Linked DNA regions of Homo sapiens. The protein of the gene in region 3 interacts with the protein of the main gene of each other region in a pairwise test. Each region holds a gene or a part of one and is shown on either strand. Other genes may lie near its edges. The genes, in order: ZNF48, SH2D4A and TACC1.

Region 1 (7,692 bases), on a different chromosome or scaffold from region 3:
TGTCAGCGGGGGGCTGGTGCCCAGAGGAGGTGGGGGTGGGCTGGGGATCAGAGCGGGTAGGGGATAGCCTGGGAAGCTGAAGTCCTGGGGCTCCATGTGAGTGAGGCGGTGGCGAAGAAGGGTGGAGCTGAGGCTGAAGGTACGGTCGCATTCCGGGCAGGCATGGGGCCTCTCGCCACTGTGGGTGCGGAGGTGTTTGACTCGGGCGGAGCTGTCCGCGAAACCTTTGCCGCACTCTGGGCAGAGGTAGGGCTTCTCACCCGTGTGCACCCGCAGGTGCTTCACCAGGTCGGATCCCCGGGCAAACTCCTTTCCACACACATCACAGCCAAAGGGCTTGGGCCCCAAGTGACTACGCTGGTGACTCAGGAGGCTGCAGCTGAGCACAAACCTCTTGCCGCAATCAGTGCAGATATATGGCTTGTCCTGGGCCTTCGGTCCCTGGGTAGCTGCCGTGGCTGCCCGAGATGGCTGCCGTCGGGGCACCACTGGTCGGGGGGGCTGCTCCCCCCGGTGTGTCCGCTGGTGCTTGATGCGGGCGGAACTGTCGCCAAAGCCCTTGCCACATATGCCACACTTGTAGGGCTTCTCACCAGTGTGTGTCCGCTGGTGTTTCACCAGGTCAGAACTCTGCCGGAAGCTCTTGCCACATTCACCACAGATAGTGGGGCGCTCACCAGCAGGGATCCGGGACCGAGGAATCTTTGGGGGACCCTGGGCTGGTGGCCGGGCTCTATAGGGCTTCTCCCCACTATGAGTCCGCTGGTGTTTGATCCGGGCAGAGCTATCCCCAAAGCCCTTGCCACAGACCCCACACTTGTAGGGTTTCTCCCCTGTGTGGGTCCGCTGGTGTTTCACCAGATCTGACATCTGCCTGAAGCTTTTGCCACACTCACCACACACAGCGGCCCGATCACTACTAGCCTGGCCCCAGCGTGGTTCACCCAGGAGCCGGGGGCCTCTGTCCCGAGGCTGAGGCTTTCCTAGACCCTCTCTCTGGACCCATAAGTCATCCCAGTTCTGGATGCCTTCAGGTTTGAGAGAGGCATTTCCTACTTCATGATCTGGAGCCAAATCTTCTTCCTTGAACCCCAAGTCATCTTCCTGTGGGGTATGTTCAAACTCATTCGGCTGAGAAATCACGTTCTCACTCCCTAGACCTGAGGAAAGAAAAGGAAGTTGTAGACCCTCCCCTTTGGCTCGGTACTTATCTTTGACAGCAACCTCTCCAGGAAGACTCCCTTGACAATCTGTGGTCACAGGAACCCCAATCTCTCTGTCCTCTCAACCTCTGGTGCACTTACTATCTGTGCCTCTCAATAAAAACTTCTTTTTACTGTGCCCTTAATGTATGTCATTCACCAAACTCAGCATTAGTATTAAACGCTTGCAAACAATACTATAACACTATGACTATCCCCATATTACAGGCATGGAAAGACTCAGAGAATTTAAGTCCTTTTGCTGGAGGTTATAAAGGTTAGAAAGTAGCAAAGCCAGGCCAGCAGGGTGGCTCACACCTGTAATCCTAGCACTTTGGGAGGCCGAGGTGGGTGGATCACTTAAGCCCAGGAGTTAGAAACCAGCCTGGGCAACATGGTGAGACCCTAACTCTACAAAAAAAAATACAAAAATTAGCTGGGCATGGTGGTGCACACCTGTAGTCCCAGCTACTGGGAGGCTGAGGTAGGAGGATCACTTGAGCCCAGGAGGTGGAGGCTGCAGTGAGCTGTGATTGTGCCACTCTAGCCTGGGTGACACAGTGAGACCCTGTCGCCAAAAAAAAAAAAAAAAAAAAAAAGTAGCAAAGCGTGATGTCTAACTAAGGTCTCTCTGACACTCAAGCCCGTGTTAATCCCTACATTATATTGTCTATTTGGAAAACTTGGTATTTGCTATTATTATTGTATCTTATTATATTAGCCCATTCGGTAATTTATTACATCAGTTATCCTGTGTGTACCTGAGAGGACCCAGGCACACATCCCTTCCTCAAGAAGCTTAGGGTGGTAGGAGAGATAAGATTAAAGTATCAATGGTTATAATTGTGGGTGCAGAATAACTAGAATAACTATGTTGTCACAAGAGAGATAGGAGATAAGGAAATAGGAACCGGCATTACGGCAGAGCGAAGAGAAAATAATGGAGTGGAATGGAAGATAAGGTGTCAAAGGATGTTGGGACTAACCTGAGCACGCACGGTTTGGATTGGACACTAGCTAAGGCTTTTAATTAGGAGACTGGGGGACGCTAGGGAAGGTTTTCCAGAAGAGACACAGGATTATATCTGGACTTAGATCAAGCTGGCGAGAGAATGCATCAGTGGAGAGAAAGGGGCAGAGAGGAGGCTACTGCAATTGCCAGGATAAAACAGAATGAAGCCTGAAGTAGGGCAGAGGCAGTAAGGATGAGGAAGGCCGTGAGGGAGGGGACAGAGGCCGTGAAGAGCCCCTCCCGGCCTGGCGCACAGTTGGTGCTCCGAAAGCTCCCCTCCCCCTATCTCCCCAGAGGCACAGCTCACGTCCGATCTTCCAGGATCTCGGCCGGCCACAGCCAAGCATCGCAGTCCCCACCGGCCGTTACCTGTCCGTGGCGGCGCACGGCCGAGGCCCTCACCTGTGCGGGCGCCTCTCTGTGGCTCCCTCTCCTCCGGGCGGTGGAGATCTGGGCCCCAAGGCTCTACCGCGCGCTCCATCGCCGGCACGCCGCCCTGAGCAAGGGGACAGACAGCATCCCGCGGTCACGCAGCCATGTGTGGCCCGCGGCGCCCTGCCGCTGCCCTCTGCCGGCCAGCGCGGGCACCGGGCGGCGTCGGGTCCCAGGTACGGGCGCGGCTCCCGGTGCCCCCTGCCCGCGCCGCCGGCCGCCCCTGCACCTGCTGCTCCTCCCAGCGCGCAGCCGCCGCTCTCACCTTGCCGGCCGCCTCCGGCTCCGCCACCCCGGCGCCCTCCGGAGCTCCTCAGCGGGGTGCAGGCGCCCGAGCCGCCAGCGGCTCCGGGATGCAGGCTCCGCGCCAAGCCGGGAGCGGGCTCGGACCCAGGCGTCCCGGGGGCGGCCACCGGGGGCGGGGACGGGAAGCGGAAGCGCGGGGCCGCACGGAGCCGCTCTAGGACCTTGGAGGAGCTGCGGGCCTGTGGGGGTCGCCCGCGTCGGCGGTAGCTCTGTGGCCGGCGGGCGGCAGCGTGCGGCCCAGGGGCTACTCTAAGCCGAGGCCGGCGGCCCGAACTCGGTGGTATTAACCGTGTGCCTCCTGGGCTGCAGCTGGGTGGTGAGGCCCGAGGCTCTTCGTAATTGTGGCTGTGTGTCTCCAGCCACCCGCGCCGACCTCCCCGGCCGGCCGACAGCGCCAGCCACTCCGACCTGGGAGAGACAAAGAAAGAGGGATCCAAAGACGGACCCGGGGAAAGGGGTGGGGGAGAGACCAAGGCAGACAAAGGGCGGCGGAGACCCCAGACGGGGCGGGGCGGGGCGCCGAGACGTGGGAAACAAAGCGGGGCTGGTCCGAGAGGCCGAGGGCCCGGGGTGGGGGTGGGTATGGAATGGGGGCTGGGCTGGGGAGACCGAGGCAGGAGCAGAGGCTAGAGGCAGACACCGGGTAAATGCTGCTGGAGAGATGGAATCAGACCTGGGGCCCGGAACAGAGACCCTGAGCCAGAGACTCACATCAGAGCCCTGAGTCACAGAGGACGCAAAGGCAGAGAGAGACCGAGGGACAGCGGCTGACCAAAAATAAGGGGAGCCAAAGATTAGCCGCTAGAGACAGAGACGTAGAAACGGATAAGAGATAAAGTCATTGACGCAGAGTCCGAGGAGCAGTAAGAGGCTGGGAGCCTGGAGAGTAACAGGCCCAGAAGCAGAGGAACAAAAGACGATAGTGAGCGAAACGGGCAGAGACAAAGAGAAAGAGACACAAAGAAAGAGGCGGCCAGAAAGACTCCGGACAGGTCGGCAGCCCTATAGAGGCCAGGCTCAGGGAGAGGCTGAAGAACAAGCCCTGTTTCCCATCCTGGTGGGCCCCTGGCTGGAGCTGTGTTTCCAGGTTCCCAGGCCCTAGGAGCAAGATCCCAGTATCCGCTCTCTGGGCGGGCTTGGTTTTGGGGTGGAGAGAGTGTCTGGAGGTGTCTTCAGCCCCTCTGCCAATGATGGTGGGGGTAACTGTGGTTTATGCATTAATTCACATTTATTAGCATCTTAGTGCTAAGCCAAGAGTTGGGGATAAAAAGTTGAAACACCTGCAAGATTTGTCCTTGGAGAGCTACCAGTCTAAAGGAGCAAGTACACAAATCACTGAAATTAGAGAATTTAGCTGGGCCTGGTGGCCTGCCCCTGTAATCCCAGCTGAGAGGATTCCCTGAACCTGGGCATTCAAGGATGCAGTGAGCCATGATCGTGGATCGTGCCACTGTACTCCATGCTGGGCAACAGAGCGAGACCCTGTCTCTTTAAAAAAAAAAAAAAAGAGAGAGAGAATGGGCTGGGCCCAGTGGCTCATGCCTGTAATCCCAGCACTTTGGGAGGCCAAGGTGGGAGGATCACTTGAGGCCACTAGTTCGAAACCAGCCTAGGCAAAAAAGTGGACCTTGTCTCTACAAAAAAAAAACAAAAATTTAGCAGCGCATGGTAGCACATATCTGTGGTCCTGGCTACACTGGAGACTGAGGCAGGAGGATCACCTGAGCCCAGGAGGTTGAGGCTGCAGTAAACCATATTTGTGACACTGCCCTTCAGCCTGGGTAATAGAGCGAGACCCCATCTAAAAAAAAAAGAGAAAGAAAGAGAGACTGTTAAGGTAGTTATATGGACCCGGCCAGGTGCAGTGGCTCACACCTGTAATCCCAACACTTTGGGAGGCCGAGGCAGGTGAATTACATGAGGTCAGGAGTTTGAGACCAATCTGGCCAACATGGTGAAACCCTGTCTCTACTAAAAATACAAAACTTAGCAGGGCGTGGTGGCACGGGCCTGTAATCCCAGCTACTCAGGAGGCTGAGGCAGGAGTATCACTTGAACCTGAGAGGCGGAGGTTGGAAAGAGCCGAGATCACGCCACTGCATTCCAGCCTGGGTGACAGAGTCAGACTGCGTCTCAAAAAAATAAATAAATAAAATTTAAAAGGCCGGGTGTGGTGCCTCACACCTGTAATCCCAGCCCTTTGGGAGCCAGAGGCAGGAGCTCACTTGAGGTCAGGAGTTCCAGACCAGCCTGGCCAACATGGTGAAACCCCATCTCTACTAAAAATAAAAAAATTAGCAGGGCGTGGTGGCAGGCGCCTGTAATCCCAGCTACTTGGGAGGCTGAGGCAGGAGAATCACTTGAACCCCAGAGGCGGAGGTTGCAGTGAGCTGAGATCGCGCCATTGCACTCCAGCCTGGGGGACAAGAGCGAGACTTCATCTCAAGAAAAAAAAAAAAGAGTTATATGGACCAATTCACGATAGTGTGGGAGAACAGGAAGGGTTCTAGTTTGTAGTAATGAATCTCTGTGTGCCTGGCATGCATGGATGTTAGCACTGACAGAAACAGGGACCAGAAATCAACACATACCTATTGATCACTAGCTAATACCTAAACACTGTCCTAGGCCCTGGAAATAAAGAAACTCTTCAGGGAGCTCTTGGCCCAATAGGATATGGAGTTGTCAGATGGTGTGACAGGTTCTATATTGACTGTATGGACAAAATTTTATAGGAGTGTAGCGCACAGAGATACCTTCTGTAGTGTTCAGTGGGTGCAGATACTGTCTTTAAAGCCATTTATGCAGAGTGTGGTTCTTGGCCTTTGTCACTTAATTGCTACTTGACTTTAGGGAAGTTACTTAAGCTTCTGTTTCCCAAACTGTAAAATAGGGATGATAACAGCTAACTTTGATGGTTGAGGATGAATATGTGTAAAGCACTTAGCAAAAGTATCAGCTATTACTCTAATTGGTTTGATTTCGGCAAAGTCCAGACTCTGCCTGGAGTGGGGGCTGAATGAACAACTCCAGGCAGTGGGGGCTGAATAAACAGTGGGCCACATACTAATTGAAAACCTAATATGGGCCAGGCATGGTGGCTCACGCCTGTAATCCCAACACCTCGGGAGGCTGAGGTGGGCAGGTCTCTTGAGTCCAGCAGTTTGAGACCAGCCTGGCCAACATGGTGAAAACCCATCTCTAAAAAGATACAGGGCCGGGGGCGGTGGCTCACTCCTGTAATCCCAGCACTTTGGGATGCCGATGTGGGTGGATCACGAGGTCAGAAGATTGAGACCATCCTGGCTAACACAGTGAAACCCCGTCTCTACTAAAAATACAAAAAAATTAGATGGGCGTGGTGGCAGGCGCCTGTAGTCCCAGATACTCAGGAGGCTGAAGCAGGAGAATGGCGTGAACCTGGGAGGCGGAGCTTCCAGTTAGCCGAGATCGCGCCACTGCGCTCCAGCCTGGGCGACAGAGCGATACGCCGCCTCAGGAAAAAATAAAATAAATAAAAAGATACAAAAAAGTTAGCTGGGAGTGGTGGTGCACACCTGTAGTCCCAGCTACTTGGGAGGCTGAGGTGAGAGGATCTCTTGGGCGCGGGAGGTGAAAGTTGCAGGGAGCTGAGATCATGCCACTGCACTCCAGCCTGGGTGACAGAGCAAGACCCTATCCCACCCCCACCCCCCCGCCAAAAAAAAAGGAGAAAGAAAAGGAAAGAGAAAGAAAACCTTAGGCTGGAATCAGTGGCTCACGCCTATAATCCCCACACTTTGGGAGGCTGAGGCAGGTGAATCACCTGAGGTCAGGAGTTCGAGACCAGTTTGGCCAACATGGTGAAACCCCATCTCTACTAAAAAATACAAAAATTAGCCAGATGTGGTGGTACGCGCCTGTAATCCCAGCTACTCGGGAGGCGGAGGCAGGAGAATCGCTTGAACTCGCGAGCCGGAGGTTGCAGTGAGCTGAGATCACACCACTGCATTCCGTTCTGGGCAACAGAACAAAACTCTGTTTAAAAAAAAAAAAAGAAAAGAAAAAGACTGCCAGGAGCAGTGGCTCACGCCTGTAATCCCAGCACTTTGGTAGGCTGAGGCGGGCGGATCATGAGGTCAGGGGTTGGAGACCAGCCTGACCAACATGGTGAAAACCTGTCTCTACTAAAAATAAAAAAATTAGCTGGAGGTGGTGGTGCTCACCTGTAATCCCAGCTACTCAGGAGGCTGAGGCAGGAGAATCATTTGAACCCGGGAGGCAGAGGTTTCAGTGAGCAGAGATCACTGCACTCCAGCCTGGGCGACAGAGTGAGACTCCGTCTCAAAAAATAAAAATAAAAGAAAACCTAATGTGTGCTAGAAGCTTGAGATCCAAAGATGACTATGGATTACGACCTATCTTCAGAGAGGAAAATAGAGAATAGTTCCGTTTTAATGTGCCGTGAGTTTACATATTAGGAAAGCAGTGAAAGATGAAGATAGAATGTAAGTTTATTCGGCCGGGCGCAGTGGCTCACGCCTCTAATCCCAGCACTTTGGGAGGTCAAGGTGGGCAGATCACGAGGTCAGGAGATCGAGACCATCCTGGCTAACACATTGAAACCCTGTCTCTGGCCAGGCGCGGTGGCTCACGCCTGTAATCCCAGCACTTTGGGAGGCTGAGGTGGGCAGATCACGAGGTCAGGAGATCGAGAGCATCCTGGCTAACACGGTGAAACCCCGTCTCTACTAAAAATAT
Region 2 (7,237 bases), about 19 Mb from region 3:
CAGTCCAGCTCTAACTCAGCTTCACTGTAATACACAACACAGAGGCCTTTTTGTGAGTTTATTTGTGTGCCCAGAATCAGAACAGCAGGATGTGGTGCCATGTATGAAATTTCAGAATGGAAGCCAGCAAATTCCTGCAGCAACAGAAACGCTGAACTGATGGTGCTTGACACAGGGCAGAAGCCTCCTCCTGGTCAACTGTAGCTAAGCTTAGGGGAGGCCAGGTGCACACACCCCAGCCAGGAAGGACAGCAAGGAACCGACTGTCACACTGACCCAGGTGTGGACATTGCTTACCCACGTATTCACCAGACACTTAGTCCCATTTCCCCTTGCACTTAGTCATCCACTTCGTCTCTACAATTTCCCCTTCCAAACAAACACTAAGAACAGCACAAAAAGCACAGCCTCTCACATGTGCAAGGAGGTTCATGGCACCTCTGTGATGAAATTCTCACATTATTTCCATTTTTATGTTGTTTTGTTTTACTTTTTATAGCAAACGTGGATTTCTAACATTAAAATTAACTAGTTCATCTTGAAGGAAAGACACTGGCTTCCTTGTGCCTCCAAGAATACTTGGGGGACCCAGCCGACAACTATCTGTGGTCAGGCCGTTGACGATGTGGCCATTCTGCCACTGCTGAATGGTACTGGTGTAAATCACCTGTCCCCCTCACCCTCTAATTCCCAACCCCTAACCCCCGCTCCAAGGCTTTCTCAGACCCCAACTCAAGCTCAGCACAGTACACCCAAGACACCCAGAGGCACTCCAGCCTCAACTCCCAGCTCCGCCTCTAGTGAGCGGTGTGACTCTGTGCTGTCACCTCACCTCCTTGGGACTCAGTTTCCTCATCTGTGAAACGAGGACTGGTTCAGTCTGTGACTTCTAATGTGTGGGTATCTGACATAATCTACTGTGAAGCGAAGGAGCCTGGTGGAGCCAGGGTAGAAGAAATAGAAATCAGGAAATTAACTAACTAGGGCTTTCCTACTTTCACTCCCTGACAAGGAAGTAATCATTGCTGATACTGATTCAAACTCAGAGGACTTTCCCATACTATATCAAGGGCAGCAAATCTCCGGTTATTCAAGATCCAACAAAGGAATAGCTCAGCTAACACAGCCCCTTTCTTAAAAGAGAGAAATGATAAGCAACAAGCCCACACCTGCTATTTATTCTGAACACCAATTGCTAAAAGGTCAGAGAATCCGTTGTTTTCCATGATACCATAGATTTGGCCTGATTCTCACACCTTCACACTGTTCTACAATACAACTGTCTTTTGAATAACTCTGAGACCTAAACAAAATACAATTTTAAAAGGCCTTAGATACAGGCTAAATCATAAAAATAGTAGGCGGGCACAGTGGTTCTACATGTAATCCCAACACTTTGGGAGGTGGACATGGGTGGATTGCTGGAGCTCAGGAGTTCAAGACCTGCTTGGGCAACATGGCAAAACTCCGTCTCTACATAAAGTATAAAAATTAGCCAGGCGTGGTGGCCCGCACCTATAGTCCCACCTACTTGGGAGGTTGAGGTGGGGGGATCTCTTGAGTTGGAGAGTTTGAGGCTACAGTGAGCCGAGATCGCACCACTGCACCACAGCCTGGGTGACAGAAGGAGACCCTGTCTCAAAAATTAAAAACATTAGGTCGGTGCAAAAGTTATTGTGTTTTACATGGCCAAAAAAAAAGTAACTGCGGTTTTTTTTACGTAAAAACCGCAATTACTTTTGCACCGACCTAATAAAATAAAAAATAAATAAAAGTATTGTGGTATGGACAGTGTAACTATAACATTAACAATACAGTTTGAATTCTAATTCTTTTAAAACAGCCAGCTCTGTGGTCCAACTTTGTTTTCTTATTGAAACTTTATCTTATTCATCTACCAGCAAAAGGGCTGTTTTTGAGGATGAAACAAATTACCAGAGATGACAGCAGTTTGTAAATATATACTATTCTTCAGAAATTTGAGATTACTGTACACACAGATTTAGTATACATAGAGAATTCCACTCATATGCCAAATCTATGCCCCTGTATGCTTTCCACTTATTTATTCACTATTTTAAAATAATCGTACCCAAGTCGTTGTTTCTATTAAACCAGCAATCAAACGAAAGCCTTTGGAGCGATGAGGAGCATCTGTTTGAAAGGGGGAGGTGCCACGCTTGCTGCTTCTCTAAGCTCCCTGGGAAGGGAGAGACAACTCAGAAAACCTACAAACTGTAGCTCCTTCCGGTGCCCGCGTGACCCCCGAGTCCAGGAGCGGGCAGGGGCGCCGCTTGGCTGAGCGCACTGGGCACCCGGTCTGGGTCTGGGCCAGCCCCGCCGCTGCAGCCCGAGGGAGGCGGCGCTGCACTGGCCTCCGCGCGCTCCCAGACCCCACGTGGGGGCGCCCCTGGGTGCCGGTGCGCGGGGAACGTGCTGCGGGGGTGCTGCGCCAGCTGCCACCGTTTCCCGGGACTTCCCTCCTGGAAGATTTCCATGCGCAAGTCGAGGACGTGCTCCTGCTAGGAGTCTAGAAACTCTAGGCCAGCCCGGACCCTCCCGGGGCCTGCACTCCCCGCGGGTGGAAGCACGCGCCGCGTGTCCCTGCCGGATTCCAGAACTTCCCCGAAGGTCCTCAGCCCCGGCAGACCCTCTCCCTCGAAGTTCCCCCGCCACCCCCTGCAAGCCCCCAGGCCCCGGGGACCGCCGCTCACCTAGCCAGCGGCTCCAGACACCGGACACCGGACACCGGACACCGGACACCCGCCGCGGCCGCTCTCGCCGCCCAACCCCGCACCTGAGCCCGCCCCGGGCGCCGCGAAGGGGTGGAGGCGGGGGTGAGGCTTCCGCCCGCCCGCTCTGGCCCCTGCGCCTCCCATGCACCCATGCAACCTCCGAGGAAATTCCCTTCCCCCTACTCCCACCCCACGCACACTCTCCCCAAAGCCTCGCCCCACCCCCAGCACCTACCAGTGCTGGGCGCCCCTGGGCAGGGTGGCTCGATCACCCGCCACATCCACTTGGCCGCCAGAAGCCGTCGGGGAAGGGAGGGAGGGAAAGGCAGAGGCGTCCCAAGCGGCGCAGGCGGGCTGAGCAAATACTCCGGCCCGGACGCAAAACAGCTCTTGTAGCCGTCCCGCCCGCGCCGCCCCGCCGCGCCCACATGCCGGGGTGACTGGCGGGGCGCAATCGCGGCCCCACCCGGGCGCCTGGAGGCTCTCCAGGGCCACTCGTCGGCGAGGCTGCGTGGCCTGCGCATCTCGGGCCGCCTGGCCCGCGCGCTGTCCCCGAGCTGCGGTAGTCCGGGGTAGGCTTGTCCTCTCCTCTCTTAGTTCATGAGACAGGGATCTGCAGTCTGTGATCTCTTGGGGACTGCAGGACTTAGATTAAATCTGCAGATCTGGGCCTTTCCACGTTTCAGAGCTCGGGGTTCCTTGCTAGGTGTAGGGTAGGAGGGTGCGCAGGCCCCACTTGTTCACTCTGCTTGGGTGCTGCAGGCCAAGGCGACTCTGGAGCTTTTTTTTTTTTTCTTTTGTTGACATTAAGTAAATGATCAAACTCTTTGGCACTTGTCGGTACACGTGTGGCTTTGTAGGACAAGATGAAGGAAGGAAAAGGCTGGAAGGAAGGAGACCGCAGTCAACACAGACAGGTGGAGAAAATGAAAGAAAACTGGGGGAAAAGTTAAGATGCTGAAAGGAGTCTTGAGGATTGCAACAAGAACAGGTTGGCTTGGTGCCTGAAGACGTCAGGGAGGAGCTGGCAGTCCACAGTTAGAGGAAATCTTGGAGGAAAATTGAGCAGAAGCACAGTGGAAAGGCATTTCCACTGGAGGGCATTTTCCATCCTAGAGGAGCATGTGGAAGAAAACCGCCTGCTTTGGTGAACCCCAGATTTTGTGTATTGGGAGAGATGTAATAAACAGTAAACACCAGTAGTCCTCTCCACGGACTACCTGACCTCTTTAGGAGCCTGACCTGCTGGATTCAAACACAAAATGGCATTTCCCTGCCTCTCCAAACTGCAGAAGCTGTGCAGAGTTACATCAAGCCTCGGGGCAGGCGGCATTGTCAGGAAATAAGACCCAGCTATTTAGGAACAATTCCAGGAATCCCATCAGGGAGGAATTTCTGGTGTAAGGCTTAGTTCCTACTGCAGTTTAAATGATAGCATATGGGGTGCTTTAGGCTGGAGTGGGATTGGCCCCTGGAAAGCTGCTATGACGAGGTCAGAATGAATCCTAGCCCTGCATGGATGCATCAGTTGAACCATACAGGGTGGTTTATCAGTTAGGAAAAATCCCACAGGACACTGTGACAGCCTACCTTCCTCACACCCAGTCTCTCTCCAGGTCCTGGCAAGTCCTTCCTTATAACAGCTTTATCACTGTGCTACTAACCTCTGTACCTCACTTTCCTCCTCTAGATAAAGAGTGTCTGCCTCGGTAAGTTGTCAAGAGGGTTAAATGAGATGCTACATGCAAAGAGATTAGAAGAGCTCTTGGCATGTGGTGAGTGTTCAAACACATTCACTCAGATCAGTTCATATCACATTAAGGTACTGGAATTCCACATTCCTGCCATCTCACCCTAGGCTGTGGGTTCTGCCCACCATGCCACCTACCTTCCAAGTCATTCCCAGGGATCCTATCCTCCTGGTATTCACATCCTTGCATAGCTCCCTGCCACTTTGTAAAGGTTGGTATGCTTGACCAATAGAACCCGGCAGAAGTGATGATGGTCTGCCACTTCAGAGATTAGGTAAGGAAACACCTTGGTGCTTCTATCTTGAAATAATATTGACAGCCCAAAGGAACGCACGCTGTACACAAATAATGCAAACAACTCAGAACCCAGACTCTCTTCCCTTTTCTCTCATCTGCCCATTTCCATCCTTCTTGTCTCGTGGCTCTTTCCTATATTTGCCATGAACTCTTCTTCTTCTCTTATTTTTATAGTTTCTTCTCCATCCTCTTCACTTGGTCTCCCCTCTCCTCTATCACCTTCTCTTTTTGTTTCCTTTCTGCTGACTCCTGGAATTTCCTCTTTTAATTGGCATGGTCTGGAAGAGAAAAGGTAGATGTTTTTCCCTTAATTTCAAAAGTAGACAATTCGAATTTTTTTTTTTTTTTTTTTTTTTGAGATGGAGTTTCACTCTTTTTGCCCAGGCTTGGAGTGCAGTGATGCAATCTTGGTTCACTGCAACCTCGGCCTCCTGAGTTCAAGTGATTCTCCTGCCTCAGCCTCCCAAGTAGCTAGGATTATAGGCACCTGTCACCACAACTGGCTAACTTTGTATTTTGTTTTTGTTTTTTTTTTTTGTTTGTTTGTTTTTTAGTAGAGACTAAGTTTGACCATGTTGGCCAGGCTGGTCTCAAACTCCTTACCTCAGGTGATCTGCCTACCTTGGCCCCCCAAAGTGCTGGGTTACATGCGTGAGCCACTGCGCCTGGCCAAGAATGTTTTATAATGCTCTAAAAAAAAATCAGGTGGCCTATTACTTGTGGGGCCTTCAGTTACTTTTTCCCTCCCTTTGGGCCAGTACTCTCAGAGGAAAACATTTCCCCCCTCCATGATCTAGGATGTGTTATAGGGACGAATGTGGGGAAGACTGCTGACAGGGGCTGGCCACTGACGAGTCACAGACATGGAACATGGTAGCACCAACATGTGTTCAGGAATGCTCTGCTGCAGCGTTCACTGCCAGAACTTAAAGAGAAAGCTAAACATCTATTTATTGGTTACTAATATTTTTAATTTGTCATTTATTCGTGGTAATGAATACCATGAAACAAATAGCCTACATTTTAATGGATGTGTTCCTTGGCCTTCCTTTTGGACTGTTGCTTAGGAGCCCTGCTGCCCAGGGCTGTCAAGTAAAATGGCATAGCATGGCCCTTGTACAACTGTGGGTGGGCAGGGGACAAGCACAGAGATCACTATGTGTAAGGCGCCCCCTGGAGTTGTGCAACACTGCCAGCCCTATTGTTGCCAGAAAGACAGGATAAGCCACTTTGCACTTTTTCTGAGATAAAGATTAATCCTTATTTCAGTTCTACAGACAATGAAAATTGCCTTCATATGTTTTCTTTATAAAATAGAGTATTTTTCCTGTCATATTTTATGATCAGCATCAGAAACCTCAACCACTTTTTAACTGTTAGAGCAGGTATACACTTGTACCACAGTGAATGTAACGTACAAATGAAAGAAAAATACAAAAACATTTAAACTTTACTAAAAACTGATCAAATCTCAAAATAAATCTTAATCAGTTCATCAATCATTAAAAATATATTTAGGGTCTGCTGTGTTTTCAGCTCTCTGTGAGCAGTTAGATTTGATTTTGAACTATTTTCATTTGTGTATGGTTCTGTATGGGCCTTTATTTCTTCATCTTCATAAACACCAAGATAAATTATTGGTCTTTACATTCATCTTTGAATCAATTACATTACTGTAATATTTAATGTTTTTCCAAGAGTTACCTTTATGGAGTTCTTTCTCTAAAATCCACACTCTGAGTTGCTAATTAGACATTTCTGGTCTCTCATATGTGTGTGTGTATATATATATATACATATATATATGTGTGTGTGTGTGTGTGTATGTGTATGTGTATATATGTATGTGTGTGTATGTATGTATGTGTGTATATATATGTTTTAGATGGAGTCTCGCTCTGTCTCCAGGCTGGAGTGTGGTGGCACGATCTTGGCTCACTGCAACCTCCACCTACCGGGTTCAAGTGATTCTCCTGCCTTAGCCTCCAGAGTAGCTGAGACTACAGGTGTGTGCCACCACGCCTGGCTAATTTTTTGTATTTTTAGCAGAGGCAGGATTTCTCCATGTTGGTCAGGCTGGTCTCAATCTCCTGACCTCGTGATCTGCATGCCTCAGCCTCCCAAAGTGCTGGGATTACAGGTGTAAGCCACCATGCCCGGTGGTTTCTTATATTTCTGTAATACAGTGACAAGCAGCCCGTGTCTCAGAGAACTGCTCACCTCAAACTTATGGGTGGAATTGGACAGTCGCTATCCCAACGATATGGGACATCTGCAGTGGCCTATGGTAACCAGTGCTTTTTTATGGGTCAAAGCTCTGAGAAAGGAGCAGAAGCAAACTTTTTCTAATATTCTGGTGTTCCTTGGATCTTCCCAGGCAGTTTTGATAAGGTCTACTAGACTCATAAAATCAAATCTCATCTCTTTTTTGGACCAGATTCAGAAATGCGTTTC
Region 3 (7,522 bases):
GGAAGGGCACGGTAAGACAGATACATAGGGAGAAGATGGCCATGTGTTGAGACAGAGACTGGAGTTCTGCTGCCACAAGCCAAAGAACACAAAGGATTGCAGACACCCAGCAGAGGCTAGAAGAGGCAAGGACAGACTTCCTGGAGCCTTCAGAAGAGCAAGGCCCTGCCAACACCTTGACTTGAGACTTCTGGTTCTGATTTCAATTATCCAGGACTGTGAGAGAATAATTTCTGTTATTGTAAGCCGCTAAGTTACTCTGTTATGGCAGCCCTTGGAAATGCATATGCCCTCCAGTGGCTTTCCACCTTACTGAAAACCAAATCCTCACTGCAGCAGCATCTGGACCTCCTCTGACCACGCTGACTTCAGCTCCTCCTGCTCTCTGAGTAGTCAGTCCACACTGACCTCCTGGCTGGTCCTCAAACTGTACCATGAACCCTCCACCTTACGGCCTCCCTGCAGCAGGCTGGTGCTGTCAGACCTTTGCAGATGCCACTCCTTCTGCTGGAAGGGTTCCCACCTCAGGAACCTCCAAGGCCTGCTCCCTCAATCTGCCTTCAGGTCTCTGTTCAAGTCACCTAATCATGAATGCCCCCACTAACTCCCCTTCAGCCTTCCCTATCCCCACTCCATATTCCCTATTCTCTTCCCCTGCTTTATTTTTCTCCACAGTGCTTCACACAAGCTGACATAGATATTTTGCTTAACCCTTCACAGGTTCTCCCTCCACAATGTTAGCTCGAGAGAGCAGGACTTCACTGCTGAATCACAGTGCACTCTATTTAGTAAATAAGCATATGAATTCTGTTGGGATAGGTGAAATTTTATTCTGAACTGGCTGTGTGACAAAAAAGGTTTCTACTAATTAAGTGAGACAACGGAAGCTCCTGCAGATGAAGGGCTGGGCTCTGAGGGGCTGGGAGGGAATCCATGTGCCAGGTTTTCCTAAGTAGACTGAAGGGCTCTCACCACATCCCTGCATGGAAGTGGGCGAGGTGAGTGATTCCGAAAAAGCCTCTTAAGAACCTCCCTATCAAAAATTAAGTCAAGTCTTACCTGTAATTTTTGTCTCCAGCCACACCCCAGTAGAAAGCAACTTAGCCTGAGGAATTTGTGAAGTCAAATATAAACATGATCTTCCTACTTCATTACTATACATATTTTTTTAGGGGCTGAGGAGAAAGGCCTAGTAGGAATGTTTGATAATGATAATCTTATACTGCAAATGCACAAACTCTACTCAGAGGAGAAAGCCTCGATCACCACACCCCTAAAAATACATAAGCCAGGAGGTTTCAAACAGCTCTTTCTTAGTCAAACTCTCTTAAATGGTCCTAAATTTACACTTTTTTCCTTCCTTCATTGATATTTTTCAAAACTTTTGAAACAAAACAGGCAGGAAAAATGCAAGTTTTTCTTTACCTTGGCTTTTGGCCCCAGGTCCTGCCAATCCGAGTGATGGATCACAGGACTCCTTGAAAGGTGATCGGATCGGGGTTTCAGCTTCAGGAGTCTCAAAATTACCTTCAGAATCCGAGCTGCCAAGGAGGAAAAATGAGGAATTACCACTTTCAACGGTATTTCCGACACCCTTTGAAATCTACATATTCACAGAGGCTAAAAGTCCAGCACTTTTGTCTAACTTCACAACCAACCGGTCCTCAGCAGGGTCTGACCTGCGGGAGGCAACTGCGGTCTCTGAGCAGTGCCCTCCTTGGGTTTCTCAGGCTGGCATCCTGTCTCTCTGAAAGCTCCTCCATTCCCTGGAGCTTTTCTCCAGCACCATTTATTTTCGAGGTCATCCTTCCCTCAGACACCTGAAAAATGCGCTTTTCCAACAGACTCCTTTTGTCACAAGAGCCCTTTCCCAGAGGCTTTAACAATTAATACTGGTCCCACCCCCGAGTTAGGCCGATGCTAGGCATTCCTCTTTGCTCGGTAGGCCTCTACCTGCTGGAACTCCCTGGGCCCGAGGCTAAGAATGGTGTCACCTGCCTTCCGCAATCACGCGGATGACAGCCCGGCAGAGACCACCATTTCCCAGCAGCTGCCAGGGGCCTGTCATCACGCGACCTTCTTCACCGCGGCTGCGTTTTGGGTACACGGTAGGGCCCCGGGAAGGGCCGGGGAGCGACTTCTTCCCCACGGGGGGGCCCTAAGTTGCACTGGGTTAGATCAGTGACGTTGCTCCAGTGTGGAGGGGCGGGGGCTGGGGGTCGAAGCTTAGAGAAAGTGACCGAGGCCAGCGGGGATGCGGAGAGACTGCAGATTCTGGGTTGGGTGCGGAACTCTCCTAGCGAAACGGGGGCCAGAAACCCCACGGGAGGACAGAAGATCCTGAACTTTCGGACGCACACGGGGACCCGGCTCCGGGCAGGGACGCGGCACGGCCGTGAGGACGGTTTCGCGGGTGGCGACCACACACACGCACACAGAGGGAGTCGCAGATGGATGGAGGCAAGCGCGTCTGCATCTCAGCGGGGACGCCGTGTACTTGCCTGAAACTCAAGGATTTGGTCTCGGCTTGCGAATCCTCCTCCTCGGGGTCGCCCTCGGGCCCGCCAGCCTCGTCCTCGCCGGCGGCCCCGCCGCGTACCGCAGACCACGTCCATTTCGCCCACTGCACGGGGGACAGGATCTGCCACGGGCTGAACGCCATGAGCGCGGCTCCTCCGGCTCCAGCTCCTAGGGGCAGGGGAATGGGTGGGGAGAGCCTTTTTCCCTTTCAAAATGGAGGGAACCGGTGACAGGCGCCAGCAAGCGTTTCCAGCAGAGGCGCGGATGTGGTTAAACGAGTGCCGTCGGGGGCCCTGGTGGAGCGCTTCCTCCCGCCGGCAGCCGGCGCTGCGTCCTCCTCGGCCTCCTCCCCTCACGGTGCGGCCGCAGCGGGCCCCGCGCCGGGCTCCACTAGCCGGGAAGACGCCCGTCCTGTGGCCTCCTCAGGCCCCCGGCCCGCGGCGCCCGGCTGCTAGACCTCTGCTGCTCCCGCTCCCGGCTCGCGGACTCCCGCCTCCCGGCCGGCGGGGCGCGCATCAGCTGCCGCCGGAGCCGCGCCCCAGAAGCCGCCCCCTCGGACCGTACTACTCGCGCGCGCGCGCGGGGGCGGCGGCGGCGCCGGGGCTTTGAAGACGGCCGCGCGCCCGCCGGATCCCCCTACCGCGGCGTCACGCTGGTCGCGGCCCGACTGAGGGCCGGGGCTTGCCGGCTGCGCGGGGAGATTCGGTCATACCCCACAGGTCCGCCGGCGTCCGGGGCAGAGGAGGACCGTTTTCTGAGCCGGGGCACGCTGTCCTCTTCCTCTTTCCTTATTCCTTTTTAAAATTTTTTTAAACATTTTCATCTTGCCACTGTGACTTCACGGCGATGGTGATATTGGACTGCACACAAGCCCCTTGTTACCAAAAAAAAAAAAATACAAACCTTCGCGGCCGCTGTGGACTGTTGTTTTCCCCTCCCTAACCCTGGCAGCGTGGGGGATTTCAGCCTGTTCATCTCCATCCCTGGCATTCCCGGGATTTGAAAATCCCTTGGCAAAGCCACAAGAGTGACCGAGGACTGGAATTTAAGATGCCCTCCCCCTCCCCAAACCGCACTCGGGGAGGCTTCCCAAGTGCCCAGGTCTTGTCTTAGGTAAAGGGTACTAAATTCCCTGTGAGATTACAGCCTGATGGGTTTCCCATTCTCCATATTTATTTATTTAAAATACAGACAGGCGTCTCGATATGTTGCCCAGGCTGGTCTTGAACTCTTGGCCACAAGCGATCCTCCCGCCTCTGCCTCCCAAAATGCTAGGATTCCAGGCCTGACACCGCGCCTGACCCCATTCTCCTTTTTGAGATTTTCTTTTCGTAACTTCTAAGTCTTTGATTTCTGACTTATTTCGCTGCTTCAGTAACAAGCCAAGAGGCCTGGCGACATCTTTAGGTTTGAAGGCAATGGGAAATAGCTGATGTTCTCCATTTCCCATGGAGGGATTTCATGTAGGGATTGTTCCTCTCAAAACCACCAAAGCACCTTCTTCCAAGTGAATCGATTGCCTCAAACACCAGGCTTAATGATCTCCTTGCCTGGATAAGGTGTTCCAGGTGGTACTGTAATTTCCGAGTTGTGGTGCATCCATGAGGTGCCTGCAGGTTCCCACAGAGACAGCAGCTCCAAAATGTGCACGTTGAAACTTGCAAGAGACTAACCGTTGCCTCTGAAAGCAGTTGGCATGTATATTCATCGTGACTGTTTTACACATTTGATAACAAAAACAGGAGCAAAATACAAGATAAGGCTTGGCAGGGTAGTTTTACCAAAACCGAAGGGCAGGAGTTAACCTGAAGTCTAGAGAAAAGAAAGGGGTGGGGTGTCAGGATGCTTTCGAATTCATCCTGGCTTCTTCCCAGAAATAAATTGTCATGAGTGTTCTAGCGACTATAAAGAAGTGAACTAGGCAGGAGGTCCATGTGAAATATATCACACCACTTATCCAACTGTTGTAGTTTTAGGTTTATGCTTACCCAGTAAAACTTCAGGTTCTACAGTCCCCCAGGCTCCTGGATTTGACACAGGGTTCTGTTTCTGGGAAATAATATTACCCCAGCAAATCAGTAACTAGCATACACTAGGACCTGTTCTTCCTCCTGAATAGTTCTCTTATCTTTTCATTCCTTTGCATCCCTGTGGTGACTGACATAGTTCCCGCACTCCCCATCTTTCATGATCTACTGTAAATAACTCCCACCTGGTTTTACCTCTGAAGGTTTTCTTGCCTGAGGTCACCCCTGCCTGGCTGATCAGTGACTCGTGCTCTAATCTTTCGGTTCCCATTCCCCTCTATGCCCATCCTTTTGTATTCCTAGCCACAGTGAGTAGAGAACTCGTTGTCAATCTTTAATATGCCCAAGAATCATCCGCCAGCCTTCTTAAAAAAATCCAAATTGCCAGCAGAGTCTGGAAATCTGTGTGTTCACTAAGTGTCCTGGGGAACTGTTATCACAGGGTAAATTTGGGAAACAGTGCCTAGCTTGAACCAACTGCTTACTGCTTCGGGAACAGTCTCCCTTTGCCTGCAGAGGGAGCTTTGCGAATTCCTGGAACACACCTCCTCCCCCACCCCAGCCCACCCCAAGTTCCCAGGCTTCAGCTGCTCGAACGTCCTTCAGCACTTAGCTCAAGTGTCTACAGGGGGAAGCAGGCTCATTGTCCTTCCTTTCTATCATTTCTATACCCCGAACATCCATAAAGAACACTTCCTGTGGCCTTAGATCTGAAAGTGAAAGACAGCATTCTTAATAGTTACACAGGGACTATAGGCATAAACCAGGACTGTCTCCAGAAGACCAGGATGTAAGGCCATTCTACACTTAGCACACCATATATAACATATTTATTTACATATCTGTCCCACAAGCTTCTAAAGGGACTTTACCCCCCTTTGGGACTTCCTCCAGAAATTAGGACAGAACCACACACTCAGTAGGTGTTCAATATATATGTAAGAAAAAACAAACATTCTAGTTTACAAATAGTCCTTGTGAGTTTGGCTAAGGTGACATAAATTCCTAAAGCCTGACTCCCCCTGGGGAAATCTAGTTTCTGGGCCAGAAAATAACAGAACCCAGGACCAAGTGATGGCCCCAGTAAGATTAAGCCTCACCTATGCAGCAATTTACTTTTTTTTTTTTTTGAGATGGAGTCTCACTCTGTCACCCAGGCTGGAGCACGGTGGTGCAGTCTCAGCTGACTGCAACCTCCGCCTCCTGGGTTCAAGCGATTCTCCCTGCCTCAGCCTCCCAAGTAGCTGGGATTACAGGTTCCTGCCACCATGCCCAGCTAATTTTTTTATTTTTTAGTAGAGACGGGGTTTCATCATGTTGGCCAGGCTGGTCTTGAACTCCTGACCTCAGGTGATCCACCCACTTCCAAAGTTCTGGGATTATAGGTGTGAGCCACCGCACCCGGCCTGCAGCAACTTCTTGAGACTGGACTAGCAAATAAATGCCTAAGGTTTCTGAAAATCACTCCTCTGCAAGTTCTTGAACTTAGTGTAAGCAGTAATGAATATGAGTCCATTAGCTGGACCACTCCTCTCAGTCTGCTGCTCCTAGTCCTGGCTTCGTTCTTACCTGGTACAGGTTGCAAAGTCACAACTAGGAACACTCTAGCCCTGTCAGTGAAGACGTGCCATTGCCAACAGGAGGCTGTGGCCACCCTATCTGCTTTTCTGCCCTACCTCAGTCTAACCAGGCAAGGGCATGATGATGTCTAATCAAGACAACATTGCCAATAACAGCATCTGACCGCATTCAAATATGTTAACATGACAGTCTTAACCTTGCAAGATCAGATATTTACCTAATTATCCTTTACCTGTAGACTACAAACATCTATAGAATTACAATCTTCCCTCCACTACCCAAACACCGAAATCAGGACTGTGTACAATGCATTTATACAGAAAATTATAAAGAGAAGCTCCTTTCTAATTTTTTAAAAGAGAGGTGTCAGGGTATGTTCATAGCTAATACTCTTTCAGGCTGGGTGCGGTGGCTCATGCCTGCAATCCCACACTTTGGGAGGCCAAGGCAGGCAGATCACTTAAGGTCAGGAGTATGAGACCAGCCTGGCCAACATGGTGAAACTCCATCTCTACTAAGAATATAAAAATAGCCAGGTGTGGTGGCAGGCGCCTGTAATTCCAGCTACTCGGGAGGCTGAGGCAGGAGAATCACTTGAACCGGGGAGGCAGAGATTGCGGTGAGCCGAGATCATGCCACTGTACTTCAGCCTGGGCAACAGAGTGAGACTCCATCTCAAAAAAAAAAAAAAGAAAATACTCTTTCAGAGTTCCAGGAAGATTAACAAAGATCCAAACTGCATTTATTAAAGACTTGGCTGAGCCCCCCACCTGGGGTCTGCTGAAAGACCCTTGCCCAGACTTTGCTCTGGTGAACAACTCTTGTCATATCCACCCATTGATCTGTTTTCTTCTGTATCACAGAAGAAAAGTTTGCTTTCCCCAGGAAGTATACCATTCAACCTAGGTCACAGGTCAAACCTATAGCAGAACTGCCACACAGAAGAGTTACACTGTGTCAGCTTTCAGAGAAGCTGGGGGGACATATATATATATATATATATATATATAGATAGATAGATAGATAGATAGATAGATAGATAGATAGATATTTACACTACACTAGTGTCATTGAAGAGCCAGTTCTGTGAGATTCTCTCATTCCCATCAAATATTCATGACTATATGTTTATTGACTTTATAAGAAAGTTCACTTTAGTTCTCTACTCTGTGATGTAAACATATTAAAGAAGCAGTTGTTGAGTGCAAAAGATATAAACAGAATTAGGTCAGCCTGTTTATTCTAAGTGAAGAAAAATAACCCCAACATTATCCCTAATTCTTCCCACCAACCACCACAAATCCAAAGTTGAAAACAAGCAAACCAAAAACAAACACAAAGCTCCACTTAAAGCAGTGAACTATCTTTAAATTTAGAAATATCTTCTATTCCAA

What was found.
Region 1: the proteins of TACC1 (region 3) and ZNF48 interact in binary tests that used the Homo sapiens proteins (3 or more experiments, as listed by UniProt).
Region 2: the proteins of TACC1 (region 3) and SH2D4A interact in binary tests that used the Homo sapiens proteins (3 or more experiments, as listed by UniProt).

The regions. Positions count from the first base shown.
Region 1 is NC_000016.10:30,390,798-30,398,489, reverse strand, and holds the start of ZNF48 (zinc finger protein 48), read right to left. Parts: upstream 3,071-7,692; 5' UTR 2,912-3,070; exon of another isoform or gene 2,711-2,911; 5' UTR 2,696-2,710; coding exon 2,617-2,695; intron 1,161-2,616; coding exon 1-1,160. UniProt on the Homo sapiens protein: May be involved in transcriptional regulation.
Region 2 is NC_000008.11:19,309,557-19,316,793, reverse strand, and holds the start of SH2D4A (SH2 domain-containing protein 4A), read right to left. Parts: upstream 3,102-7,237; 5' UTR 3,017-3,101; coding exon of another isoform or gene 2,971-3,016; intron 2,800-2,970; exon of another isoform or gene 2,715-2,799; intron 1-2,714. UniProt on the Homo sapiens protein: Inhibits estrogen-induced cell proliferation by competing with PLCG for binding to ESR1, blocking the effect of estrogen on PLCG and repressing estrogen-induced proliferation. May play a role in T-cell development and function.
Region 3 is NC_000008.11:38,782,723-38,790,244, reverse strand, and holds the start of TACC1 (transforming acidic coiled-coil-containing protein 1), read right to left. Parts: upstream 3,010-7,522; 5' UTR 2,689-3,009; coding exon of another isoform or gene 2,663-2,688; coding exon 2,502-2,662; intron 2,140-2,501; exon of another isoform or gene 1,999-2,139; intron 1,542-1,998; coding exon 1,426-1,541; intron 1-1,425. UniProt on the Homo sapiens protein: Involved in transcription regulation induced by nuclear receptors, including in T3 thyroid hormone and all-trans retinoic acid pathways. Might promote the nuclear localization of the receptors.